7 linked regions of the Homo sapiens genome follow. The protein of the gene in region 4 purifies or fractionates together with the protein of the main gene of each other region. This does not show direct contact. Each region holds a gene or a part of one and is shown on either strand. Other genes may lie near its edges.

What was found.
Region 1: the proteins of SLC2A7 (region 4) and GNPTG purify together in Homo sapiens (affinity purification with mass spectrometry; one large-scale study listed by BioGRID and IntAct). This does not show direct contact.
Region 2: the proteins of SLC2A7 (region 4) and ABCC1 purify together in Homo sapiens (affinity purification with mass spectrometry; one large-scale study listed by BioGRID and IntAct). This does not show direct contact.
Region 3: the proteins of SLC2A7 (region 4) and GPR89A purify together in Homo sapiens (affinity purification with mass spectrometry, with the first as the bait; one large-scale study listed by BioGRID). This does not show direct contact.
Region 5: the proteins of SLC2A7 (region 4) and ST7 purify together in Homo sapiens (affinity purification with mass spectrometry; one large-scale study listed by BioGRID and IntAct). This does not show direct contact.
Region 6: the proteins of SLC2A7 (region 4) and CUX1 purify together in Homo sapiens (affinity purification with mass spectrometry; one large-scale study listed by BioGRID and IntAct). This does not show direct contact.
Region 7: the proteins of SLC2A7 (region 4) and HS2ST1 purify together in Homo sapiens (affinity purification with mass spectrometry; one large-scale study listed by BioGRID and IntAct). This does not show direct contact.

What each region holds. Positions count from the first base shown.
Region 1 is NC_000016.10:1,354,931-1,358,430, forward strand, and holds part of GNPTG (N-acetylglucosamine-1-phosphotransferase subunit gamma precursor), read left to right. Parts: intron 1-3,500. UniProt on the Homo sapiens protein: Non-catalytic subunit of the N-acetylglucosamine-1-phosphotransferase complex, an enzyme that catalyzes the formation of mannose 6-phosphate (M6P) markers on high mannose type oligosaccharides in the Golgi apparatus.
Region 2 is NC_000016.10:16,047,116-16,050,615, reverse strand, and holds part of ABCC1 (multidrug resistance-associated protein 1), read right to left. Parts: intron 2,475-3,500; coding exon 2,313-2,474; intron 1-2,312.
Region 3 is NC_000001.11:145,614,488-145,617,987, forward strand, and holds part of GPR89A (Golgi pH regulator A), read left to right. Parts: intron 1-1,746; coding exon 1,747-1,806; intron 1,807-3,500. UniProt on the Homo sapiens protein: Voltage-gated channel that enables the transfer of anions such as iodide, chloride, bromide and fluoride which may function in counter-ion conductance and participates in Golgi acidification.
Region 4 is NC_000001.11:9,019,924-9,023,423, reverse strand, and holds part of SLC2A7 (solute carrier family 2, facilitated glucose transporter member 7), read left to right. Parts: intron 1-345; coding exon 346-506; intron 507-3,500. UniProt on the Homo sapiens protein: Probable sugar transporter. Even if its physiological substrate is subject to discussion, it is able to transport glucose and fructose. Does not transport galactose, 2-deoxy-d-glucose and xylose.
Region 5 is NC_000007.14:117,219,001-117,222,500, reverse strand, and holds part of ST7 (suppressor of tumorigenicity 7 protein), read right to left. Parts: intron 3,418-3,500; coding exon 3,325-3,417; intron 579-3,324; coding exon 439-578; intron 1-438. UniProt on the Homo sapiens protein: May act as a tumor suppressor.
Region 6 is NC_000007.14:102,198,626-102,202,125, forward strand, and holds part of CUX1 (Homeobox protein cut-like 1), read left to right. Parts: intron 1-176; coding exon 177-242; intron 243-1,445; coding exon 1,446-1,547; intron 1,548-2,734; coding exon 2,735-3,500. UniProt on the Homo sapiens protein: May be involved in intra-Golgi retrograde transport.
Region 7 is NC_000001.11:87,075,135-87,078,634, forward strand, and holds part of HS2ST1 (heparan sulfate 2-O-sulfotransferase 1), read left to right. Parts: intron 1-3,500. UniProt on the Homo sapiens protein: Catalyzes the transfer of a sulfo group from 3'-phospho-5'-adenylyl sulfate (PAPS) to the 2-OH position of iduronic acid (IdoA) or glucuronic acid (GlcA) within the heparan sulfate (HS) chain and participates in HS biosynthesis.

The sequences.
Region 1 (3,500 bases), on a different chromosome or scaffold from region 4:
TCTGTGGGGTGGGGCCGGGCGTGGAAAGTCCCCCGCGTCTGTGGGGTGGGGCCTGGATACTCCCCCGCATCTGCGGGGTGGGGCGTGGATCGTCTCCCGCATGTGCGGGGTCGGGTGTGGATGGTCTGCCGCGTCTGCGGGGTCGGGTGTGGATGGTCTCCCGCGTCTGCGGGGTCGGGTGTGGATGGTCTCCCGCCTCTGCGGGGTCGGGTGTGGATGGTCTCCCGCGTCTGTGGGGTCGGGTGTGGATCGTCTCCCGCGTCTGTGGGGTCGGGTGTGGATCCTCTCCTGCGTCTGTGGGGTCGGGTGTGGATATTCTACTTGTTTTTTCTGTCTTTGATGTAGCGCTCCTTCAACATCAACGTGTGAGGCGGATTGTGTGCAGTGGGTAGGAGAGTGTGGTCTGTGGAATGAGCTGAGCAGAAAGATAATCAGGCTGAGAAACTCAGGGGCGTGGTGATTGTGGCCTAGGGCTCAGAAGGTCCCCGCAGAAGAGTGTCTGCCAAGGAGAAGGAAGGGGTGGGCTTGCCAGGGCCGAGGCTGGTGGGGCTGGGCTGGGCAGTGGGCAGCTCCATGGCCTCCACCAGATGAGTCGGGAGCCTCGTCCCTTGACAGCAGGAGGAGCAGAGGTTGGTAGGTCTGTGATTTGGAGACAGTGTCCCGCTGTGGCATGGAGAGGGAATGGGGCACGGTCAGTGTGGTGGTCCTGCCAGCGCCCAGCAGAGTCCAGCATAGCCCAGCACACTGTCCAGGAGGGAGCTCTGCCTCGGTGGCGGTGGGAGGGAGCGGCCAGCTGGGCAGGACTCTGGGGCCTTGGCAGGGTCCTGGATCTGGGGAGGGGGCGGGGGAGGAGTAGAGTGGCCCCGGGATCCTGGCTAGAGAAGCCATGGCAAGTGCGGCTCCCAGCATGTGAGTTGCAGGGGTCAGGCTGGGAGCTTGCTTTCGGCTGGGGCCGGGCTGGGTCTGCCAGGCAGTCCCTGGTGCTTGGAGAGGGTCACGGTGGGCACAGGACTCACCAGGGGGTGCGTGAGGCCGGAGGGTGAGGGTGAGGTCCCCGGTGAAGTTCTTGGTGGCGTGTGGGGGTTGTGGAGGTTGGGAGGGTACTGGGACCAGGTGTGGGGCCGGGCCAGGGAGCAGCGTGGGAGGGAGGACCACCCTTGAGAAGGGATTGTCACCAAGAGACGCAGCCCTAGGGGGAGTGCTGCCCACCGAAGCCTGACCGGGGCAGAGGGGAAACGGAGTCCAGGCTCAGCCAAGCTGATGGGCCTTGAGCTGTGGCCTCGGGTGCAGGGACAGCTGGCAGTAAGGCCACCTGGGCCCGCGGGAGCCAAGGGCACCGGCGAGTGTCCTGGCCATGCAGGCCGTGAACACGGAGCCTGCAGGGGACGTGCGGGTGAAGCAGGAGCAGAGGAGAAGCCTCCCGGCAGGGGTGGTGGCATTTGGGGGTGGTGGTATTTGGGGGTAGAGACTCCCGCTCAGGTATGGCTGTGTCTGGCCCAAGAGGCGTGGAGGGGCCAGCCCCCACCTGTCTCAGGAGGACAGGCTGCTGAAACCTGAGGGCCAGGCGGAGGGGAGGGGCCGTGGCCGGGGTTCTGGTGTGGGCCAGCAGCAGAGGACCTGGGGTACTGGGCACTGCCAGTTGGGGGCTTGTGGTACCATCCCCTGCGGGAGGCTGCACCTCAGCCAGTAGGAGTCCACTGAAGCTGTGGACAGCACCCAGGCAGAGGCCTCCTCCCAGCTGGGGAGCCAGGCCAGGCCCCGCTGCCCTCACACAGTCCTGTTTAGACGGATGGCCCTGCAGGTGCAGAGCTAAGCCCGGCGCCCACGCCCCTCCTGGGGTGTCTCCAAGCAGTGTCTGCCTGGGGCAAGCCTGGGAACGTGAGTTCCCAGGACACAGGAGCTTGACCAGCCACCCTCCCAGCGGGAGTGTGAGAGCGGGAATCTGCGGGCGGGGGTCTGCGGGCGGGAGTGTGCGGGCGAGAGTGTGCGGGCGGGGGTCTGCGGGCGGGAGTGTGCGGGTGGCGGTCTGCGGGCAGGAGTCTGAGTGGCAGATGGGTGAGGGACACATCAGGGTCTCTGGGATGGCTCCAAAGGCTTCCCTATGTGCCTGTTGGGCAGGGCCCTAGGGCCAGACTGGAGGGACCAAGCCCAAGCACCCCAGGCTGTGGGACAGCAGGTGTGACAGGGCTGAGGTAGAGCCCCCAGCGGTCAGGCTGGGAGGACAGTGGGTGAGCCTGGGAGTAGGGGCCACCCAGATGGTATTTGACAAGGAAGGACCAGGACCTTTCTATATCCACAGCCCCTGTCCCCTGAGCAGGGCAGCCTGGCCATCTTGGTCTCCATCTGTCTTGGGAGGGGACAGCCCCAGGGGTGAGTGGAATGTCAGGGAACAGAAGGCCAGGCCGGGCCAGCACCCCAGAGGTCTCAGTGGCATTAGCCTCTGCCCTCCGGGGGCGGGGGCCAGGCTGAGGGTGGCCCCAGTGTGGCATCTGGCTCCTGGGCTGGCCAGATTCCCAGGGAACAGTCACCCAGCACCTCGTGTGTATTTCGACTTTATTATTATTATTATTATTATTATTAGAGCCGAGTGTCGCTGTGTCGCCCAGGCTGGAGTGCTGTGTCGCCCAGGCTGGAGTGCAGTGGCGCGATCTCGGCTCAGTGCCAGCTCCGCCTCCCGGGTTCACGCCATTCTCCTGCCTCAGCCTCCTGAGTAGCTGGGACTACAGGCGCCCGCCACCATGCCCGGCTAATTTTTTGTGTTTTTAACAGAGACGGGGTTTCACCGTGTTAGCCAGGACGGTCTCGATCTCCTGACCTCGTGATCTGCCCGCCTCGGCCTCCCACAGTGCTGGGATGACAGTCATGAGCCACCGCGCCTGGCCTCGACTTTATTATTAATACGGTAAAACTACAGAGAGTTTGAAACATCAGTCTGGGGCGTCCTCCTCTAACCAGTGCACTTGCTGCTGCAGCGCAGGCCCTTCAGGGGACGGGGATGGGGGCCAGTCCCCTCCCTGCCTCCACGGCCCAAGCCCCAGCCTTCCCCACAGTCCTGGAGGATGGCCCGTGGCTGACAGTCTCGGTGGGCGCTGTGTTAAGGTGGCGTCCCCAGCCAGGTCCCGACTCCCCAGCTTAAAGAACAGGGTGGCTGCTGTGGCTTGACTCACGAGTTGCCACTGGCCTTGATGTGTACACGCCCTTGCTCTAGCACTGCCTGGGGCTGGCCTGGCTGGAGGGTAGGGACGCTGCACGCCTTCCCTCTTCCCCCAGGCGCTGGTGACACTGCCCTGCAACCGTCAGCACCATCATCTCCACAACTTGCTCTGTCCCCTTCAAACCCTGACTCCCAGCTGCCCCGCTCCCCCAGCCCCGGCACCCACCATTCTGCTGTCTCTGAACTTGGCTATTCATAGACGTCACATAGGTGACTCATAACTGTGTGCGACCTTTTGTGTCTGACCAACTCCTCTTGGCACAGTGTCCCCAAGGTCCCCCAGGCT
Region 2 (3,500 bases), on a different chromosome or scaffold from region 4:
CTGTACCCAGCCTATTAGACAATTAAATTCTGGTGTTTTTTCTGAGTTTTATTATTAGAAACACTTTACTCACCTTCTGCTCTACAAATGTACAAAAAAAAACCAAACTACAGCCAAATAAACCAGTAATTTTTTCTTCTTCCTTTTTCTTTTTTTTGAGACAGAGTCTCGCTCTGTTGCCCAAGCTGGTATGCAGTGGTACAAACTCAGCTCAATACAACCTCCGCCTCCCGGATTCAGGCCATTCTCCTGCCTCAGCCACCCAAGTAGTTGAGATTATAGGCATACACCACCATGCCTGACTAATGTTTATATTTTTAGTAGAGACGGGGTTTTGCCATGTTGGCCAGGCTGCTCTCCTGGCCTCAGATGATCCACCCGCCTTGGCCTCCCAAAGTGTTCAGATCACAAGCATGAGCCATTTCGTCCAGCCCTTCTCTTTCAATAACAGATAATAATTTGAGCTGTGCCCATTATGCATCAGGCCCTGCTGGGGTTGTACCCACAGAAGACACAAAAGTCAGCTGCTATATGTCTGCAAGTAGCTAACATGTTACCCTTCAAAGAGGAGGCAGTACACTGAGCATGCAAAAAAAACAAAACAAAACTATTTCAGGGAGTGGGCTGGGCACGGTGGCTCACGCCTGTAATTCCAACACTTTGGGAGACCACAGAGGGTAGATCACCTGAGGCCAGGAGTTCAAGATCAGCCTAGCCAACATGATCAAACACTGTCTCTACTAAAAATACAAAAAAAAAAGAAAATTTAATGGGCGTGGTGGTGTAAGCCTGTAGTCCCAGCTACTCGGGAGACTGAGGTAGGAGAATTGCTTGAAGCTGGGAGGCAGAGGTTGCAGCGAGCCAAGATGGCACACCACACTCCAGCCTGGGCAACAGAGCGCGACTCCATGTCAAAACAAAAACAAAACAAAAAAAACTATTTCAGAAAGTATTATTAGATGAGTTCCTATACTAAAGTTATTGGGACTCAAAATTCAAAAGAAGAAGTCCATCTAATTGAGAAGGGAGGGTAAATCAATGGAAGTAGTGTTTGTTACAGCCTTGGGGGATGAGCAGGCTTTCATCAATTAGGAAGAAGGAAGGAAAGGTACGTGGCAAAGATCCAGAGGTAGCAAAGCACAAGGCATGTGTTGTGCTATGAGCCTCTTTGCTTATCATTTTATTTTGGGAACTCTCCCTCTCCACATGGAAGGGCTGTCAATCACATCTCTTCTGCCATGGGAGAGGACATGTGACCCAGGCTGGCCAATGAGAGAACTCTGCCTCCTGGGCCACAGTGATTGGTTCACGGGTGTGAATAGGACCAAGCCAGGCTAATCAGAGTGCTCTCTGAGACTGACTCTGGCTGTGCAGAGAAATGCTGCCTTGTCTTTTCTCTGGCACCTTTATCTATCAGGATGTTATCAGCCCAAAGCTACGGAGCCATGTAGGGAAGTACCACTGAGAATGATGTTAACTCAGAGGACAACAGGGCAGTGGGTGAAACTGAGTACTGACAACATTGCTTGATCTCCTGGATCAATCCACACCTGAAGCTAGTCCCCAGATTTCTGAGATACATGCAGCCCCAAAGTTCCCTCTATTTACTTAGGCTACTTTTTTTTTTTTTTGGAATTGGAGTTTCACTCTTGTTGCCCAGGCTGGAGTGCAATGGCCCAATCTCGGCTCACCGCAACCTCCGCCTTCCAGGTTCAAGCAATTCTCCTGTCTCAGCCTCCCAGGTAGCTGGCATTACAGGCATACACCACCACGCCCAGCTCATTTTGTATTTTTAGTAGAGACGGGGTTTCTCCACGTTGAGGCTGGTCTCGAACTCCTGATCTCAGGTGATCTGCCCGCCTCGGCCTCCCAAAGTGCTGGGATTACAGGCGTGAGCCTCTGCAACCGGCCACTTAGGCTACTTTAAGACAGATTTATATCCCTTGCAATTGAGAGAATTTTGACCACCATAATTAGGGACTAATGAATAAGTGAGTCTGGTTAGCGTTTGGGAGGATTCAAGGGGAGAAATATGATGTGTCGTCCATTGTAGGGTAGTTAATTACTGACACTGTCAAGGAAAAGAGAAAATGAAAACGCCATGCCACCAAGGAGAACATCAACCTGACAATTCAGGAAAGGAACAAAATACTGAGGAATTGGTTAACAGGCTGGAAAATAAAATATGAACCACAGCCGGAACTGCCAGGGAGCTCTACATGCCATTACCATCAACACCCACTCCCTCGGCCCACTGCCCACACGTAGAAGTCCCTCCCTGCATGCAAAGGGAAACGGCGTTAAACACACACCAGCCACAGGAGGTAGAGAGCAAGGATGACTTGCAGGGGGGCTGACCAGATCATGTTAATGTACGTGGCCAAGTCCATGAACCTCTGAGCGTCCACAGACATGAGGTTGACAATCTCCCCGACCGTGGAGGATTTTCTGGCTGAATTGGTGATCACCAGGGCCTGTGGGACAAAGGAGAGGGAAGGTGGGTGAGTGTGGCAGCTGAAGAGGCCTGACTCTCCCTCCAGACCCACGGAGAGGAAGGAGACTCTCAGGGGCAGAAATGCCGCAGATCTCTCCTCCTCCCCTCCCGACCTATCTGTCTGCCCAGGACGCCTGTGTCATCTCAAAGCCCACATTCTTATCCGCGGTGCTCAGTGCCTCCCAACCTTGAACTCATCAGTTGGCAAGGGACCCTAGGTGTCCTCGAAACCAGGGCTTCGCATGCTTTAATGTGCACACATGCGGCCGGGTTTTTCTGGGGGGAGTGGTGGGGGGTGGGGGGAGTTGTTTTGGATTCTGCAAGTCTGGGGTGTGGCCTGGGATTCTGCATTTCTACGCTTCCAGGCTGTGTCAGTGCTACTGGTCCCAGATCCCACTGAAGGACTGAGGGTGTGGGCCAGGGTCTCTAATCCTTGGCATTCTTGACATCTGGAGCCAGATAATTCTTTGGGGGGCTGTCCTGCGCACTGTAGGAGTTTTAGCAGCAATACCTGGCCTCGACCCACTACATGCCCTCGCCCCCAGTTGGGACAACCGAAAATGCCCCCAGATATTGCCAAACGTGCCCTGGTGGGGGAAAATGTCCCTAGCCCTCAAACATGATTGCACACTATCACCTCGTGAGTTTTAAAAACACTAAGACATTAGCAGGCGTGGTGATGCATGCCTCTGGGCCCAGCTACGTGGTGGGCTGAGGTGGCAGGATCGTTTGAGCCCAGGAGGTGGAGGCTGCAGTGAGCCAAGATCATGCCACTGCACTCTAGCCTGGGTGACAGAGCGAGACCCTGTCTCAAAACATAAAAATAAATAAAAAACAAAAACAATGACACCTGGGTGCCACCACAGCAATCGCAATTTCACTGGTCTGGTGCAACCTAGGTGTCAGGAAGTTTTTTTGTTTTTTCAGACAGGGTCTCATTCTGTCACACAGGCCGGAATGCAGGGATGCTATCAGGACTCACTGCAGCCTCCAACTCCGGGGCTGA
Region 3 (3,500 bases), about 140 Mb from region 4:
TGAATGCTGAAGAATAAACCATCTTTTATGTAGACCACTTAGCCATTCAGCAAGCACTTATGGAGAGCCTGCTACGTACCAGGCTTTGTGCTGGATGCCAAGGATACAAAGATTACAAGACAAACATGGTTTTTGTCCTCATAGAGCTTATAATCTAATGTCAAAAAATATTTAAATCACACATTACAAAACTGTATGGTAAGCACTTTGATGAGGGAAGTACAATGTAAAACAGGATTATATAAAAAGCAATTTATCTGCATTTGGGAGGGCAGAGAGGGCCTTCCAGGGGGAGTAAATAGCATAACTGGGAGAGGGCTAGAGAGAAGTTCCTTTCAGAGGACATCTACACAGGTCTCGATGTGAAAGAATATGGATCTAAAGAACCAAAGAAGTTCCAGGGGGCTGAACACATGAGTTTGCTAGGCAGCAGGGGCATGATAAGAAGCTAAAGTAGTCTGTGCTAAACTACTGAGTTTACACTTGCTCAGTAAAGTAGTCCCTAGAAAGACATAAAATCATTTTATTCATAAAGGTCCTAGCCAGTTTAAGAAGAAAAGAGTAGTTGTGTCAGTGTGTATGTATAGAAAGTTCTGTTTACTACAGACCAGCTTTATCAGCTGTCATGTGGCTACGGTCTCTGCCAGTTTGAAACAAAACTGACGAAAGAGGGATCCTGCAATCTCTCGGCTTTACATTGAGATGAAAACCACTTTTATGTAGATTAGGCAGGATGGTGGAGAAGCTAAGAAAACTCTCTGAAGGAAACAGATATAAAAAATATTAGGCTTTCTACTACTCCTCTAATTTTGGTCTCAACTCCTCTCCCCTGAAGTTTTTATTTTTTAAATTAATTTATTTTTATTTATTTTTTGAGACAGGGTCTCACTCTGTTGCCCAGGCTGGAGCGCAGTGGTGCAATCATGGCTCACTGCAGCCTCAACTTCCTAGGCTCAGGTGATCTTCCCACCTCAGCCTCCCAGGTGGCTGGGACTACAGGCACACCCCACCACCCCCAGCTAATTTTTATGTGTGTGTGTTTTTTGTAGAGACGGGTTTTCACCATGTTGGCCAGGCTGGTATTATTTTTAAATACTTGCAATCAGGGATCATCCATAAGAAGCAAGTCTCACTCTGACACCTTTTCTTTTTTTTCGAGACCTAGTCTCACTCTATCACCCAGGCTGGAATGCAGTGGCACGATATTGGCTCTCTGCAACCTCTGCCTCCCAGATTCAAGCGATTCTCATGCCTCAGCCTTTGGAGTAGCTGGGAATACAGGTGCCCACACCCAGCTAATTTTTGTATTTTCAGTAGAGACGGAGCTTTGCCATGTTGGCCAGACTGGTCTTGAACTCCTGGCTTCAGGTGATCTGCCCACCTTGTCCTCCCAAAGTGCTGGGATTACAAGTGTGAGGCACCGTGCCTGGCCACTGACTCCTTTTCTATTTGCAAACTTCTCTGGCTCATATAATGATTATCATAAGATTATGGCAAAATATGTACTTCCATTTTTGTCTTAAAGCATACTCTGTAACATGGATAACTTCAAAACTCCAAGGGCATTTAAAAATTTATTTCCAATGTCATGAGCTTTAATAATAGGTCTTATAAGAGTGGATCTTATCTTTAATCCCTGAAATAAGTTAACCGTCTAGTTAGCAGACCTTTTATCATAAAAGAGTTTCTATAAAACATTTCTCAAAAGAAAATATGTATTGACATTCTATTTTCTTTCTCCTCCAGATACTATTTTTTGGATTTGGGTGGCTTTTCTTCATGCGCCAATTGTTTAAAGACTATGAGGTGAGAAGAAATCATTTTGTCATACTTACACTATATGATTTAGATTGACAAGAAAAATGTCTCCATTAAAGAAACATTATGTTCATTTCCAAGATAGGAAGCTTTTACCAAATAAGTACTATATAACTATTAGATTGCAGAATATAAGTAGACTTAATTGATTTAAAAGGGGGGAAAAAAGGCAAATCAAATATAGCCCAGAAGTTAGGAGCAAGGATTATGTCTTAGTCATATCAGGATATGTACCAATAGCAAATAGTTATTCTGTAGGAGAGAATTTAATTCATAATGTCTCACAAATGTTCCCTTTCATTTGTCTATCTGGCCCTGAATTGCAAACCTTATATTATAAGTTAATACCAAAATCCCAAGGCTATCAGGGGAACCAGTCCCCAATATTTCAACATAGGTTCTTTCTGTTTTCCTTAAGTGTCGGCCGGTCTGAGAAATAAAGAGAAAGAGTACAAAGAGAGAAATTTTACAGCTGGGCCTCCAGGAGTGCCATCACATATTGGTAGGACCGTGATGGTGACTCCGAGCCACAAAACCAGCAAGTTTTTATTAGGGATTTCAAAAGGGGAGGGAGTGTACGAATAGGGAGTGGGTCACAGAGATCACATGCTGCAAAGGGCAGTAAAATCACAAAGCAGAGGCAAAAATTAGAATTACTGATGAGGGTCTGTGTCCCACTGTGCACACATTGTCTTTATAAACATTTTAACAGGAAATAGGGTTCAAGAGCAGACAACCAGTCTGACTAGAATTTACCAGGCTGGAATTTCCCAATCCTAGTAAGTCTGAGGGCACTGTAGGAGACCAGGGTGTATTTTAGTCCTATCTCAACCGCATAAGACAGACACTCCCAGAGCGGCCATTCATAGACCTCTCTCCCAGAATGCATTCCTTCCCCAGGGTTATTCCTTGCTGGAAAAAGAATTCAGCAGTATTTCTCCTACTCGCTTTCTGCAAGAAGAAGAGTATGACTCTATTCTGCCCAACCCCGCAAGCAGTCAGACCTTATGGTTATCTTTCCGTGTTCCCTGAAAATTGCTGTTATTCTGTTCTTTTTCAGGGTGCACTAATTTCATATTGTTCAAACACACATGTTTTTCAAACAATTTGTACAGTTAACGCAATCATCACAGGGTACTGAGGTGACATACATCCTCAGTTTACAAAGATGACGGGATTAAGAGATTAAAGTAAGACAGTCATAAGAAATTTAAAAAGTATTAATTTGGGGAACTAATAAATGTCCATGAAATCTTCACAATTTATGTTCAGAGATTGCAGTAAAGACAGGTGTAAGAAATTATAAAAGTATTAATTTTGGGAACTAATAAATGTCCATGAAACAATTTATGTTCTTCTGCTGCGGCTTCAGCCAGTCCCTCCATTCGGGGTCCCTGACTTCCCGCAACACAAGGCTGGTGTTGTTTTTATCTTAAGCTTTGGATTCAGAAGATCACCACCCTAGACTCGACATTTCCTAGTTAGTTCTCCTAATTAGTAATAAGATCAGTGGTTATAGTCTACATTTGGGTCATTTCTAGGATATTCTCCATTAAACTTTCCCAGGGAGTTTATTGTCTGAAAGAGCCTGGGATTCTGGAGATTTTCTTCTGCCCAATACTTTAAGACCTCCCGAGGAAGGTTCCAGAACTGATCCAGGATCTGCAGAGTGTTGAAGAACC
Region 4 (3,500 bases):
GTGTTAGCCAGGGTGGTCTCGATCTCCTGACTTCATGATCTGCCCGCCTCAACCTCCCAAAGTGCCGGGATTACGGGCGTGAGCCACTGCGTCCGGCCAAAAGTAAATTTTTTAACAGTGATTTTGTAACAATCTTTTTGTTCAGCCTAGTTTCTCATTTCAACCCATCATATAGTAGATTTTTTGATTCTCAGGTAATAGTAGGGAATCAGTGGGTTTAACTGTGTCTTATAGGTGTTAGCAGAAAAACCTCTCTGTACAATGACAAGTGGCCACTGAGAACACTTTCTCATTTCTCATGAACTGCCCAATATTCTTAGCTGTGGATGGGGCAATGTTTTCCAGGTCTTCAAGTCATTTTACAACGAAACCTACTTTGAGCGACACGCAACATTCATGGACGGGAAGCTCATGCTGCTTCTATGGTCTTGCACCGTCTCCATGTTTCCTCTGGGCGGCCTGTTGGGGTCATTGCTCGTGGGCCTGCTGGTTGATAGCTGCGGCAGGTAAACAGAAGGTGCACTGCTCCCACTTAAAATTCATGCTAGTAAGCCACACTGTCTCTGGGCATTTGTGCACCTGGTGGGGAGACGTGTGACCCTGAAAATCAGGAGATCTGAAGTCTAGTCTCCGCTTGGCCACAGTCATCATGACCTTAAACCAGTCCCTAAATGTCTCTGGGATTTCTTTCCTAGGTAGTTGCATGGGAAAAGCATTCCCTTCCGTCACCTGCCACAGAGGTGGTGCAGCCTTTGAGATCAAGGTTCTTGACGGTGCTTAGCTTAGTGCCTTGTAAGCACTTCCAGTGGGTGTTCAGTAAATGCTCGTTTATCAGGTTTCATTCCGGGGTCAGGTGACCATGGCTCCAAGTTCTAAGCGCTGCAGCCTCTCCCCGCGTGTCTTTGCCAGAGTTTGTTACTGAGGCTGGGGTCAGGCTGAGTCACGCTGCCGGCCACTGTCTCATAGATACGAGATTATTTGGAAATGAAGACTGGGCAGGTCTTTGAACTTTGCTTGGCTTACACAGATTCACTAATCATTCTTCCTAAGCCCAGGTGCTCCAAAGACGTGACTCCACAGATAAGGAAAGATGCACAGGCCAAGGTTCCCAGGAGGGCAAAGCGTGAGCCTGGGCTCAGGATGAGGCCTGGTGGCATTCCCTTAGGTCAGCCCACTCATTCGGACTCACAGTTACACTTGGGCATGGTGTGCCAGGTTAGACAGCTTGCAGGAGTGACTGGAAGGCCCTCTAGTGAAAAGTCACTCAAAAAACCAGAGCAATTCCATTTTCAGGCATAGAAAAAAATAGCGCTGATTGAAAATTAATTATCTATTAATTAATGCAAGATTCATAGGACCTCTTCTTGCATATACTTGATCGACAATTAATTTGCCATACATTATGCGCTGGAAAGAAGAAACAATTCACTCTAATGTAACTATACCATAATTCAAGCTTTTTTTTTTGGTCATCCAGACTGTGATGTTCTCAGCCAGACCAAGAGTGTTTGGACTGTTCTGGAAGCCCAGTCTTGGCCTCCACTTCCTTGTCTGAACCCATTTTCCAGATGAAGAGCCTGAGTCCAGGAATGTGGTGGTGCCAGCCTTGCCCAGTGGGGTCCTGACAGCCCCAGCCTCCCCTTATAGTCATCAGGAAGGGCTGGGAGTCCAGAGAAGGGTGGGAACGTGTCGGGGCTGCTTAGTCTTTTTGGGCCTCCTGGCTGGCTGACCCTCCCCGTGATGGGGGATGTGCTCTGGTGGCTGCTCCTGAAGGCTGTGGCAGCCCCAGGGAGAGAAAAGTGGCCTGAGAACACCAGCCTGCTTGTCTGTGGACTCCCTGGCCAGTCCTCAGTGTTGCCGACCTGGGATATCTTCATAGAGTCCTCACCACCCACTCCCTGCTCTTGGCACCAGAACCTCGCCTTCCTGGCTTCCTCACTGAGTGCACTCACTCAGGGTCCCAGCGGTCCTCAAAGATGTGTGCAAAGTGTGAGACAATCACAAAGGTAGTCCTGGGGCTGCTGACAGCTTCATCACCCCCAGACCTGTAGGGGTGTGAGGAGGGAGCACCTCCACCTGGAGGTGGAGAGAGAAGAAATAAAAAATGAATACCAGGCTGGGCACGGGGGCTCGCGCCAGTAATCCCAGCACTTTGGGAGGCTGAGGTGAGCCAATCACTTCAGGCTAAGAGTTCGAGACCAGCCAGGCCAACATGGTGAAACTCCATCTCTACTAAAAATACAAAAATTAGCTGGGCATGGTGGCGCATGCCTGTAATCCCAGCTACTTGGGAAGCTGAGGCAAGAGAATTGCTTGAACCCGGGAGGCGGAGTGTATTAGTCCATTTTCACGCTGCTGATAAAGACATACCCGAGACTAGGCAATTTACAAAAGAAAGAGGTTTAATGGACTCACAGTTCCACGTGGCTGGGAAAGCCTCACAATCATGGCGGAAGGCAAAGGAGGGGCAAGTTACATCTTCCATGAATGGCAGCAGGCAAAGAGAGAGCTTGTGCAGAAATACTCTTCCTTATAAAACCATCAGACCTGGTGAGACTTATTCACTATCACGAGAACAGCACTGGGAAGACCTGCCACCAGGTCCCTCCCACACATGTGGGAATTTAAGATGAGATTTGGGTGAGGACACAGCCAAACCATATCACGGAGGTTTCAGTGAGCCAAGATCCCACCATTGCACTCTAGCCTGGGCGACAGAGCAAGACTCCATCTCAAAAAAAAAAAAAAGAGAGAATATCAGGATGCACCAGCCAGCAACCCCACAGCTCGGGAGCTCTCTGCCCTCTTTCTGGTCCACTGCCCATTCTTCTCCTGTGCAAAACCCAAGCCAAAGGCGGGGGGGTGGGGGGGGGCACAGGAGCCATTGCTGCAAGTTGGCAGGGGACCTAGAGCACAGAGTCAAGCAGATGAGTGGATCATGAAGGCAGCAGGACGCACCTGGCATAGCGCTGTTTTTCAGGCACTCCCTCTCCTTCTCAGGCTTGTGGTTTTTCAGCCTTGGAAGGGATCTTAGAAATCATGTAGTCCCATTCTGCACCCCACTGATTGTAAGAATTCCCTGTTCAACGTTCCTGACAGTCATCGTGTCTAGTCTAGAAACCACCAGCGACAGCTTGAATACCACCAGTGATGGGAAGCTCTCTACCTCCTGGGACAGCCCATTCTTTGTTCCTGCCCTCCCCTTTGCAGGCAGCTCCGATCGTTAGAATGCTCCCCTCCCCAGCTTCTACCCCCACTGACCCCAAGTCTTCCTTCCTGGGACGTCTGCCCATTCGCCCCTTCTTCCCATCTGTCTTAATCAGTTCAGGCTGCTACAACCACAGACTTAAACAACAGACATTTATCTTCTCACAGTTCTGCAGGATAGAAATTCAAGATCAAGGTACCAGCAGATCTGTTTCCTGGTGAGGGCCTTCTTTCTGGCTTGCAGACAGCTTTCTTCTGGCTGTGTCTTTTTTCTTTTTCTTTTTCTTTTTTTT
Region 5 (3,500 bases), on a different chromosome or scaffold from region 4:
AAGGGTTTGCAGCCATTAAAAAAAATTATTTAAATCATCTTTGAAAATGTAAATCTCATCCTTCACTAAGGAAAGACCCACAATATCCAACGATTGGAAATAATGTCATTCAATTTACAGAAAACCGAGTAACTTCCCACACATTTTCATTTGCTAGGATTTCCTAAATCATTCCATCCTTTTGGACCTCCTGCATTTTTTGGAAACTGCTAAGAATTTGTTGTGAAATGAGGCAAGGCATGCAGTAACAACCTGCACTTTCTCATTTGACCCTTAATGCTTTGATTCCATTGACGATCATGAAAATTAAATGGTGAGCAATGATCTTTGCAGGCTCGTACCCATTTCTGTAAGGCAACCCCATTTCTCTCACGCTGCTTTTATGCCCTTGGCTTTCCCCATCCATTCCCCAAGGCCTCCCTCTAGGCAAACACTCACAGCTTTTGCGAAGACCCCCATAAGTTCCGGGAACTGATGTGTCAGGAGGGCCAGCATGGCTGTGAAGGAACATAATCCAGCAGTAAAGAGAATAAAGAAGGGAAGCTCCTTCTTTGGGTAAACTGAGACTTCATGGAAAGCTGTGGAGAAGACCAAAAGGGAAATATCAGGGCTGGAGTAAACTGCACTCTCAGGGGAGGTCTTTATGGTGGCACTGACTCCAGAGCTTGGGAAAGAGTTGGAAGCCTATGGGAAATGAAAAAATAGCACACCTGACAAACCATAGCCAACATCTGACCCAGCCTTTGGAGGCCCATCTGCTGGTCGCAAGTCTCCATCCAGCCTTCAGCACTCTAAATTGAGGCAGGAGGGGGCTGATTTGAGGGTGTCACGCCTTCATGGGAGGGAAGAGGAGCACCGCCTATGCCTAATGTATAGTATTTTTTTCTCAAAAGCAAACACAGCTGAAACAATTTGTAATTTACTCAAATTACAAAACACGTGTTCATTGTACAAAACCTGGAAAATCCAAAACCGAGTATACAGGGAAAAAAGGTATCCCGTCTATATTTTTTCCTTCCTGTATTTAAAAAATCATTATAATGAGATGATACTAGTTTCTCCTGTATTTTTTCCTGGCACCCTCTAAGTATATCAGTGGAGGGTGCCACCCTCATAGAGAGATATCCAGCAAGGACCTCACATGTAGGTCTATTCAAACTGCAAGGAGGGAAGGTCAAGACTGCTAGGGTTATCTGGCACAATTGTAAGAGACTCTTGATGACAAATACACTTCCAACAATCATCAAAAAAACAAGAAAAGCTGGTGCTCTTTAGAGTGCCCTCTATAATTTTTATATTATATTTCAAACATTGGGTTTGGGAAAACCAAAAAGCTGTGGTACAGAGGTCAAGAGAATCGCCTCCTTCTCTGTGCTCATGATGAGGCTGCCTGAGAGACTGCCTGGGTCGATGGGGCGGGCCTGCAGGAGGAGAAAGAGCCACCTGCTGGGGGTGCTGGGGGAGAGGCTGTGAAACTGCACGTGAGAAACAGCCCACTCTAACCAAGAGGACCAGAGGGCTCCATGGTCCTCAGGGAATACAAGATCTAGAGGCCTTTCCTCTACCATTCAGCTCCTATTCCTCAGAGTCTTCAACAGTAATCCACAAGGCTAATACTGAGGGTGGAGGGAATCCAGGAGGAACTCCATGCAGACGAATATGCCTACTACATCCAGGTAGGTCAGCCTGCTGGGATTCAAACACACGGAACAAGTGTGCTCAGGGCCTCGTGTGGCTATAATTATACTTTTAATGTGCAAATTATGGGTAGCACTTAAAACAACCTACCTTCTTCATATCCTCACCCTTAACATCCAACCAAAAAAGATTTTGGAGGGAGACCAGACTTGGAGCACTGCATTCAATTAATGTGAGCCATAATTTCCTATTTCAGGCTTATAAAGATTATCCCTATAAGGTTTCTCTTAAGAACTGTAATCTTGTTCTAATAACTAATCTATCCCCATGGAAACTTAATTGGACTCGATTAAAACATTTAAAAATACTGTACTTTTCAGAAAACTGCCTTTCTTACCAGAAAACCGAAACTTAACAAGGATCTCCCTGAAGGGGGAGTTGAAAGGTAAACTATGGGCCCACGGTGAGGATTTCTGAAATCAAATCTAATGTGTGAGGTACCAGACTCTTTTCACAATCAAACTCGAACGGTGAGAAACACATCACGGGGATCTCCCAGTTCCCTGAGTAACAAATCTCGCACTGGGTCTGGCTGGCAGGAAGGCAAGTGAGCAACTCCTGCTACCTCAATCTGATGACAGCCATTGAGTTCTGCACCCAGATCCCACCATGCTGGAGATTCATGACTGGCTTGATGATGCTGGTGTTTGGAAATTTACTATGCACCCAGGGCTCTAAGGTTACACTGTTCCTCTGGGGAAAGTACTTATATGTTACAGCTATAAGATATTGATATAACTGGGGCTGGTGAAAGGGCAGAGATGGCAGGAGAGAGGACAGAGAAGGGAGAAGAGCTAAAATTTGGAGCTTATTATCTGAGGGAGAAAAATATATCCTAAGTCTGGGCCACATGAAGAGCCTGACATGATCCTTGTACATAGTATGATTTGATAATAACCATTTAGCCTGAATTGTCAAAACAATGTTGTATTACAGCAAAGCAAAATAATATTTTCCACATGTGGTATGGGTCATTAGACTGCTAGCAAGTGTAAGGTAGTCGAGGGCAGGGTTTTCTTTTGTGTGCTTTCATACAGTGCTGAGGCTACACGTGTGCTCTGCACATGGTACTCCGAGTCACTACATGCAACCCACGAGGTGCTCACGGGAAATCCCTCTTGCCAGAGCACAGCCTCACCACACAGCACACTGCCCTGCCCCACAACTCCACATCTGGCCATGGTGCCAGCTTCCTGGTGCTGGCCTCCCACCCATGACTCATGCGCAGCTCCCTCTCAGTCAGCAGCTCCTCTTCAAACTCCGGTCGGTGCAGACCACATCTGTCCAGCTGAAGAGCCCAGGCAGAACCCTCACAATGGACCAGCCCAGCAGACACCAGCCCAAACCAGGGGTCTCTGTGCTCAGGCCAATCAGTACATAGGGTTTCTTCAGCTACATTTCAATCCTTTGGCATCTTTCCCTTTGATAAATTTGGAGAGACTTGGAGGAAAAGGAAGCCAAACCCACTCACATAATTCACTTTAATACATATGCTATCAAACAAGGACAGGGGTTTGGAGAAAAGTAATAAAAGACAAGGAGCATTCTAAACTTTGATATTCCCACCTCTTCCAATCCCCACCTTTCACCACACACCCTCACTGGCTGAAGAGAGGTGAGACTTACATGGAAGCAGCTCTCGGTCTGCTGTTTCTGTACAGATTGGGTAAGGATAAAATAGGTGCCCCTTTTCCAAGGGATAAGGGATCATCCGAAAAGCTGAAAACGAGAAAAAATATGTCAGAGATGTCCAATGTTTGTGTCATAACTTCCCAACTGCAAAAAGGGGCGTTTGAGCATTT
Region 6 (3,500 bases), on a different chromosome or scaffold from region 4:
GGCCGGTCAGCCAGGGAAGGGCCTCTCAGAAGATTCTAGAAACTCCCGAGTTGCACAGGCAGCCCTGAGCCCTTTCTTTAGTGACAGGCGGCTCAGATTTCATGTCACACAGCCCATATCGTCAACACCACCATTCCCCTGATTGTTTTGTTCTTACCACACTTGTTTTTCAACAGAGAATCCAGGCCAGAGCCTGAACAGACTATTTCAGGAAGTACCGAAACGAAGAAATGGGTCTGAAGGTATGTTGCAGGCAGGCGTTTTCTTTGCAGTCAGTCACCTAGGGAAGCAGCATGTCCTTAGCTGTGTATTTGGGTTAAAACTGTGCAGTGTGATTCTGGCCTGGAACCTGATGGAAAAACAGCTAGTAAGTATAAAACAAGGCACGGGTTCAAGCACACCCAGCCCCTTCCTCCCGAGCTGCCTGCCCTCTCCCAAGCACAGGCGGGGGTGAGAAGAGGCATTGCTAAGCTAAGCCCCCCGAGTCTGAATCCCAGCCCACTTCAGATCCTAATTACCCGGTCCCCCGTTTTTCTCAGACGCAGTTGAAAAAATAACAGCGGTTGCTCTGAGAAAAGTCAGGTGACCCGTCAAATTAAATACTGCTGCTTCCTCGTATTTTTAACTCGGAAACACACTCAAGGTCCTATGGAACGGACGCATCCCACATCGTCCCGGTGGCATACTTGTTTTTAAATGGTGGTATACTTGTTTTGAATGCAGTGGTTCCTATTTAGGAAGGTAGTAAGAAATTAAACTATCCGGGTGGCTTCCCGAAAGAGCTGGGGCCAGCCCCTGGGCCATAGTAGCCTCATTTCGTCGGCACGTGTGCCTGCACAAAACATCACCATGTGGCCGAAAGAATCCATCCTCCCCACTTAGGAATTTCTGCAGGCTCCTTTCCTCGTATGTAAATTTTAAAAAGATATTATGTGATAATAGGTGCAAACAATTTTTTAAGTTAAGCCTTTCTTCACCCTGTGCCTCTGAATGATTGATAGACAATCAGCCTCAAACCCTCTGCCCTCCTTTTCCGTTTATCCTGTGTGGGACCCCAGCATCCAATAAACATCTAACCCCGAGGAGAGTCAGTCCCAAGCCACAGCAGTTGCTTCTAAGTGACTCATGAGAAACATTGCCTTTTAATCACTCGCCTTTTATATATATGGATTAAATGATCGGTTCTCCCGGGTACTAACCCACGGGTGGTGTCCGGCTTTGGCAGAGTAACATTGACCGTAAGGTCAAATGAGCAGGAAATCCCTCCTGCCCGGTGTCGCTGTGAAGTTGCACTCACAGCAAACACAGGCCACTGGGAGGCCACATCTGCCTCCTTGTGTCACCAGCCCCCACCCGGGGCTATATATCAGAATGACGTCTTCGCGCAGCGCTGATTTTTGTCCGGGGTTTGGGTTTGATGTCATTGGCGCAACTTCTCCCCACAGGTAACATCACCACCCGGATCCGAGCCTCGGAGACTGGCTCTGATGAAGCCATCAAGTCCATCCTAGAGCAAGCCAAGAGGGAGCTCCAAGTGCAGAAAACTGGTACAGCTTCCATTTCTTCATCCACTGTCTTCAAACTTAATTAAGAGAATTGTCATGAGTGCTCTGGTCAGCAGTAATTAACTATTTTTTTTTTAAACAATAATGAATGCCTGTTCTCAAGCATTTAGGCACGTAGAGAGAAGCAGGTCTGTGTGATCTGTATTTGCCTAATAGTTACCTTTTTTTTTGAGATGCAGTCTCTCTCTGTTGCCTGTGCTGGAGTGCAGTGGCACGATCTCAGCTCACTGCAACCTCTGCCTCCCGGGTTTAAGCGATTCTCCTGCCTCAGTCTCCCGAGTAGCTGGGACTATAGACATGTGCCACCATGCCCATGATATTTGTGTTTTTAGTAGAGACGGGGTTTTACCATGTCGGCCAGGCTGGTCTCGAACTCCTGACCTCCAGTGATCCTCCCACCTCGGCCTCCCACGGTGCTGGGATTACAGGTGTGAGCCACCGCGCCTGGCCCCTAGTTGTAATTATTCACAGAAATTACGCTCCTTAACTTTGACAGAACCACTTGCATTTCAGAATATAGCACAGGAAAATGAATACCAAGTATAAAAATTATCAGAGGTCAGGCGCGGTGGCTCACACCTGCAATCCTGGCATTTTGGGAAGCTGATGGGGGAGGATGACTTGAGTTCAGGAGTTTAAGACCAGCCTATGCAACACAGTGAGAGACCTTGTCTCTTAAAACACTAGCCAGGCATGGTGGCATGCACCTGTGGTCCCAGCTACTTGGGAGGCTGAGCTGGGAGGATTGCTTGAGCCAGGGAGGTGGAGGGTGGGTACAGTGAGCCGTGATCGTGCCACTGCGCTCCAGCCTGGACAACAGCGAGATCCTGTCGCTAAAAAAAAAAAAAAAAAAAAAAAAAAAAATTCTCGGGGAAAGGAGCCCCAGGAGGGCAGGTCGGGGAGCACTTTCACTGACACCCCCTTTATTACCCTCTACATCTGTGTGTATACCAAAGGCCACCAGGTCATCAAGCTGTAGTGTCAGGCCCTGGTCCTTGGTTGAGACAAGATGCCTGAATGTTTCACTGACAGGGGCCATGCTGGGGAAATACACAGTGTGGTTCTCCCAAATAACCCACACTTTGCAGTAGGTCAAGTTAGGATGAGAAGCATGTCCCCAGCTGAAGGGGGCCGCCCTGCCACACTCTCACCCCTGTTTCTCCATGCAGCAGAGCCGGCCCAGCCTTCCTCCGCATCCGGCAGCGGGAACTCTGATGACGCCATCCGCTCCATCCTGCAGCAAGCCCGCCGGGAGATGGAGGCCCAGCAGGCTGCCCTCGACCCTGCCTTAAAGCAGGCACCACTGTCCCAGAGTGACATCACCATCCTCACCCCCAAGCTTCTGTCCACCTCGCCCATGCCCACCGTGTCCAGCTACCCACCTCTCGCCATCTCCCTGAAGAAGCCCTCCGCAGCTCCTGAGGCCGGTGCCTCTGCTCTGCCGAACCCCCCGGCCCTCAAAAAGGAGGCCCAGGACGCCCCCGGGCTGGACCCCCAGGGAGCAGCCGATTGTGCACAAGGGGTCCTGAGACAGGTGAAAAATGAGGTGGGCCGCAGCGGTGCCTGGAAGGACCACTGGTGGAGCGCGGTGCAGCCGGAGAGAAGAAATGCCGCCTCCTCCGAGGAGGCCAAGGCCGAAGAAACGGGCGGCGGGAAAGAGAAGGGCAGCGGTGGCAGCGGAGGTGGCAGCCAGCCTCGGGCCGAGCGCAGTCAGCTCCAGGGACCCTCGTCGTCAGAGTACTGGAAGGAGTGGCCCAGCGCTGAGTCCCCATACTCCCAGAGCTCAGAGCTGAGTCTGACCGGGGCCAGCCGCAGCGAGACACCACAGAACAGCCCCCTGCCATCCTCCCCGATCGTGCCCATGTCCAAGCCCACCAAGCCCTCGGTCCCCCCGCTGACCCCCGAGCAGTACGAGGTCTACATGTACCAGGAGGT
Region 7 (3,500 bases), about 78 Mb from region 4:
TGTCTCTGTGTACTGTTCTCAGCTACCTTTTTTTTTTTTTTTTTTTTTTTTGGAGACAGGGTTTTGCTCTTGCTTCCCAGGCTGGAGTGCAATGGTGCGATCTCGGCTCATTGCAACCTCTGCCTCCCACGTTCAAGCAATTCTGCCTCAGCCTCCCAAGTAGCGAGGATTATAGGCATGCGCCACCACGCCCAGCTAATTTTTGTATTTTTAGTAGAGACAGAGTCTCACCGTGTTAGTCAGGCTGGTCACAAACTCCTGACCTCAGGTGATCCGCCCACCTAGGCCTCCCAAAGTGCTGGGATTACAGGCGCCTGGCCTCTCAGCTGCTTAAATAAGAATTAAATGAACTATTTTGCTCTTTTTTCTTCTCTAAGAAATAGTTTCTAATCAAGTACAACTTAAAAGATGAGATCTTTCTTAAATCTGTTGTCTCCAGCTTCCGTGTAAAGCTCAGTTTACTCATAAAAATATTTTGAGATATGTTACCTGACCATCCTCTTTATTCCCTCACCTTCCAATCTTAGTTCAGTCTGCTTGATATCTGCCTTTAGCCCCAGCTTTCCTAGACATTTTTTGTACATACTATATTAGGTATTGTTCTAAACTGTTTACCTGCTTAATTATTTGTCTCAAAAATTTTAGAGGCAAAGCCCAAATATTTTTAGTCTGGTATAAAACCACTCAATGTATAATAGTTATATATATTCTGCTATCCTTAGAAATAGTTGTCAACTCTGCTTTTGAGTTTTTCATTTATTTGTTGTGTATGTAATATACACAAAGGTTGTACTACATTCTTTGGGGAAATAACAAAGAAATAGAAAGCATGGCCACATCCTTGAAGGAGCTTATTTAAAATTTACTTGGGAACATAAAACATAAACACAGGGGCTATGAAAACAGTTAAAATAAAACATCAATTTGTGGTGATCTCACTGAAATATTTAACCAAAAGTGTTCCCTACCAAAATGTTTGATTTGGACCTAATCCCGAGAAAACAAATTAATGTAGAATATTCTACAGAACAACTGACTTCTAAAGTGTCAGTATCATAACAACCAAAAAAGTTGGAGGGAGGCTTCTCTAGACTAGAGAGACATGGAAACCAAATGTAATGTATGGTCTGTGATCAGATCCTTGATCAAAAATGATATCTTTGTTCATAGACATAGTACATGCTGAGGTAATTAGGGGTTAAATATGAATGACAACTATTTGCTTTCAAATAGGTCAGAAAAAATTGAGTATGTATGTGCATACATAGAGAAAAAAGATAAAAGTGACAAAATGTTAATAATTAGTGAATCTAGGTGAAGAGTATAGAGATGTTCACTGTCCTATTTTTTCATCTTTTCTGTAGTTTAGAAATTTTTTTAAATAAAAAAGTTGAAAAGTTAAAAGAAGGATATTAAAAGATAAACATTTGAGAATATAAGGTATGAGAAACTAAGCAATTAGAATAAGGTGTGGACTCAGTCATTAAAGATACATTTTTGCGATGGGCTTTACTTAGTTAATAGAGAGGAATTGGCAAGAGATAGGTAATCAATCAACTCTTCTAGTTGAAAAATGGAGTTTGCTTTGCTGTCATGTGTTTAGCCATACCATATATGTGATTAGCCACATCTTTTATGATTTTTCAAAAAAAGAATTCTTTTTTGCTCTCATATGTTTAGGTCTATGATTATATATAACCCCTTTTGTTAAAACATTGGAAATACCTAGAATTTGTATTCTCTGAAGAACAACATGAATTTTTTTCTTTTTGAAATTCACTCTCAAGCCAACTTTAGGTTATCTGCGTTAGAGCCCACAGTTCACCAGGAGTTGCAGATACTTTTCAGAGCAGCACTTTAGATGAATTTTCTCCACCTATAATGTGTATGCTAATCACTGGTTAAAATGCAGATTCAGATTCAGAAGGACCAAGATGGAGCCCAGTTTTCAATTTTTAAACAACTCCCACTGGATGCCAAAATTAATGCCGCTGGTCTTTAAACTGCAGTTTGAGTAACAAAGATACAGATGATGATTCTCAGTAGGGATATGGGAAGATGAATACTTTAGTCTTCCCAGGATGGTAGGGTACTTATCTTTAAATTGTTATTCCTACCTCCCCTACAAAATCCACATTTCTTACATAGACCAAGAGGCCCTTTTTAATCTAGCCCTTGTGTGCACCAACTTCTTACCCACTAGCCACACTGGCCTTGTGTTTCATTGAATACGCCAAGCCTTTCCCATTTTAAGGCCTCCGCACTTATCCTTTCCTCTTAGAATGCACTTCTCCTGGCTTCTTCCAGAGTTGGCTTCATGTTATCCATTTAAGGTTTAATGACATCCTCTTAGAAAAACCATGCCTGGCCATCCTACATATTAATTACCTCTTCTAAGTTACTGTGTACTGTATCACTCTTGTTGTGTCTTCTCTGGTACTAATCAGCTTACTAACTTATCTTATATATTGGTTTGTTTACTGCCTGTCTTTTCCTCTATTATAAGATCTTTAAGGATAGGAACCTTGTCTGTCTTGTTCACTACTATATCCCTTATGTTTAGAATAGTGCCTGAGACATAGTAGAAACTATACATTTTTTGTTAAATAAATGATGAATGAATGAACAAATGGACCAACATAGATTTTGATAGCGGTAGATGATAATAATTACTGGCAGAGTGAGCACCTCTGATTGACAGCAGTATGATCTATTCTTATCTCTCAGGTGGATTGGGAACCAGCCCCCTGCCCTACACTCCTAAAACAGGTTGAACAGCACAGCTCTGAACTTCAGTGAAGATATGTTCAATTACTGCAAACTTTTCTTATATTTTTATCCAACCACTACTTTGTTTTCCTGTGAGTGTAGAAAACTTTCTCCCTGGCTTAGTCTCATAAAAGTACCCACAGCCATACAAGAAATGTTTAAGTAAATGCATGAGTGGGAGTTTGGTAGATAGTAATTACTCAAGTTAATAGTAGCATTCATTCAACAGATAGTAATTACAGAGTTGGAATTTGGCCAGAATGTTCAGGATGACATTCCTGCTCTTTTAGATAGTGAAAACAAATGCTTTTGTTATCACAGATAATCATAATATTGAGGTTGATCTATTAAGAATATAGGTCAAGACACTACTGTTAGTGAGAAGGGTGCTTCTTAGCTTTTTCCTGTAACATCAGTTTAGGTCTGATTCAACTAACAAAAAACCCCAACACCATTACCTATATTGTTTGTGTTTTTCCTTAAGGTCTCTTCTTATTACTTGCTAGCCTGACTTGAGTCATCAAATCCAACAAAAATCACGGTTTACACTCTGCTTCAGGCTAGCTGCGTTTCATGTACTATATCTGACTACTACATCTGAAACATTCTTCTTGGTAGCATATTTCAGTCAGAGTATGAAAATTTTCTATGACTAAAGTCACTGTAGTGGCCTTATTTCTTCTCCCCAAGCCAGAGTTTTCAGTGTCTTCAGTCTCCTTAACTTCAATTGA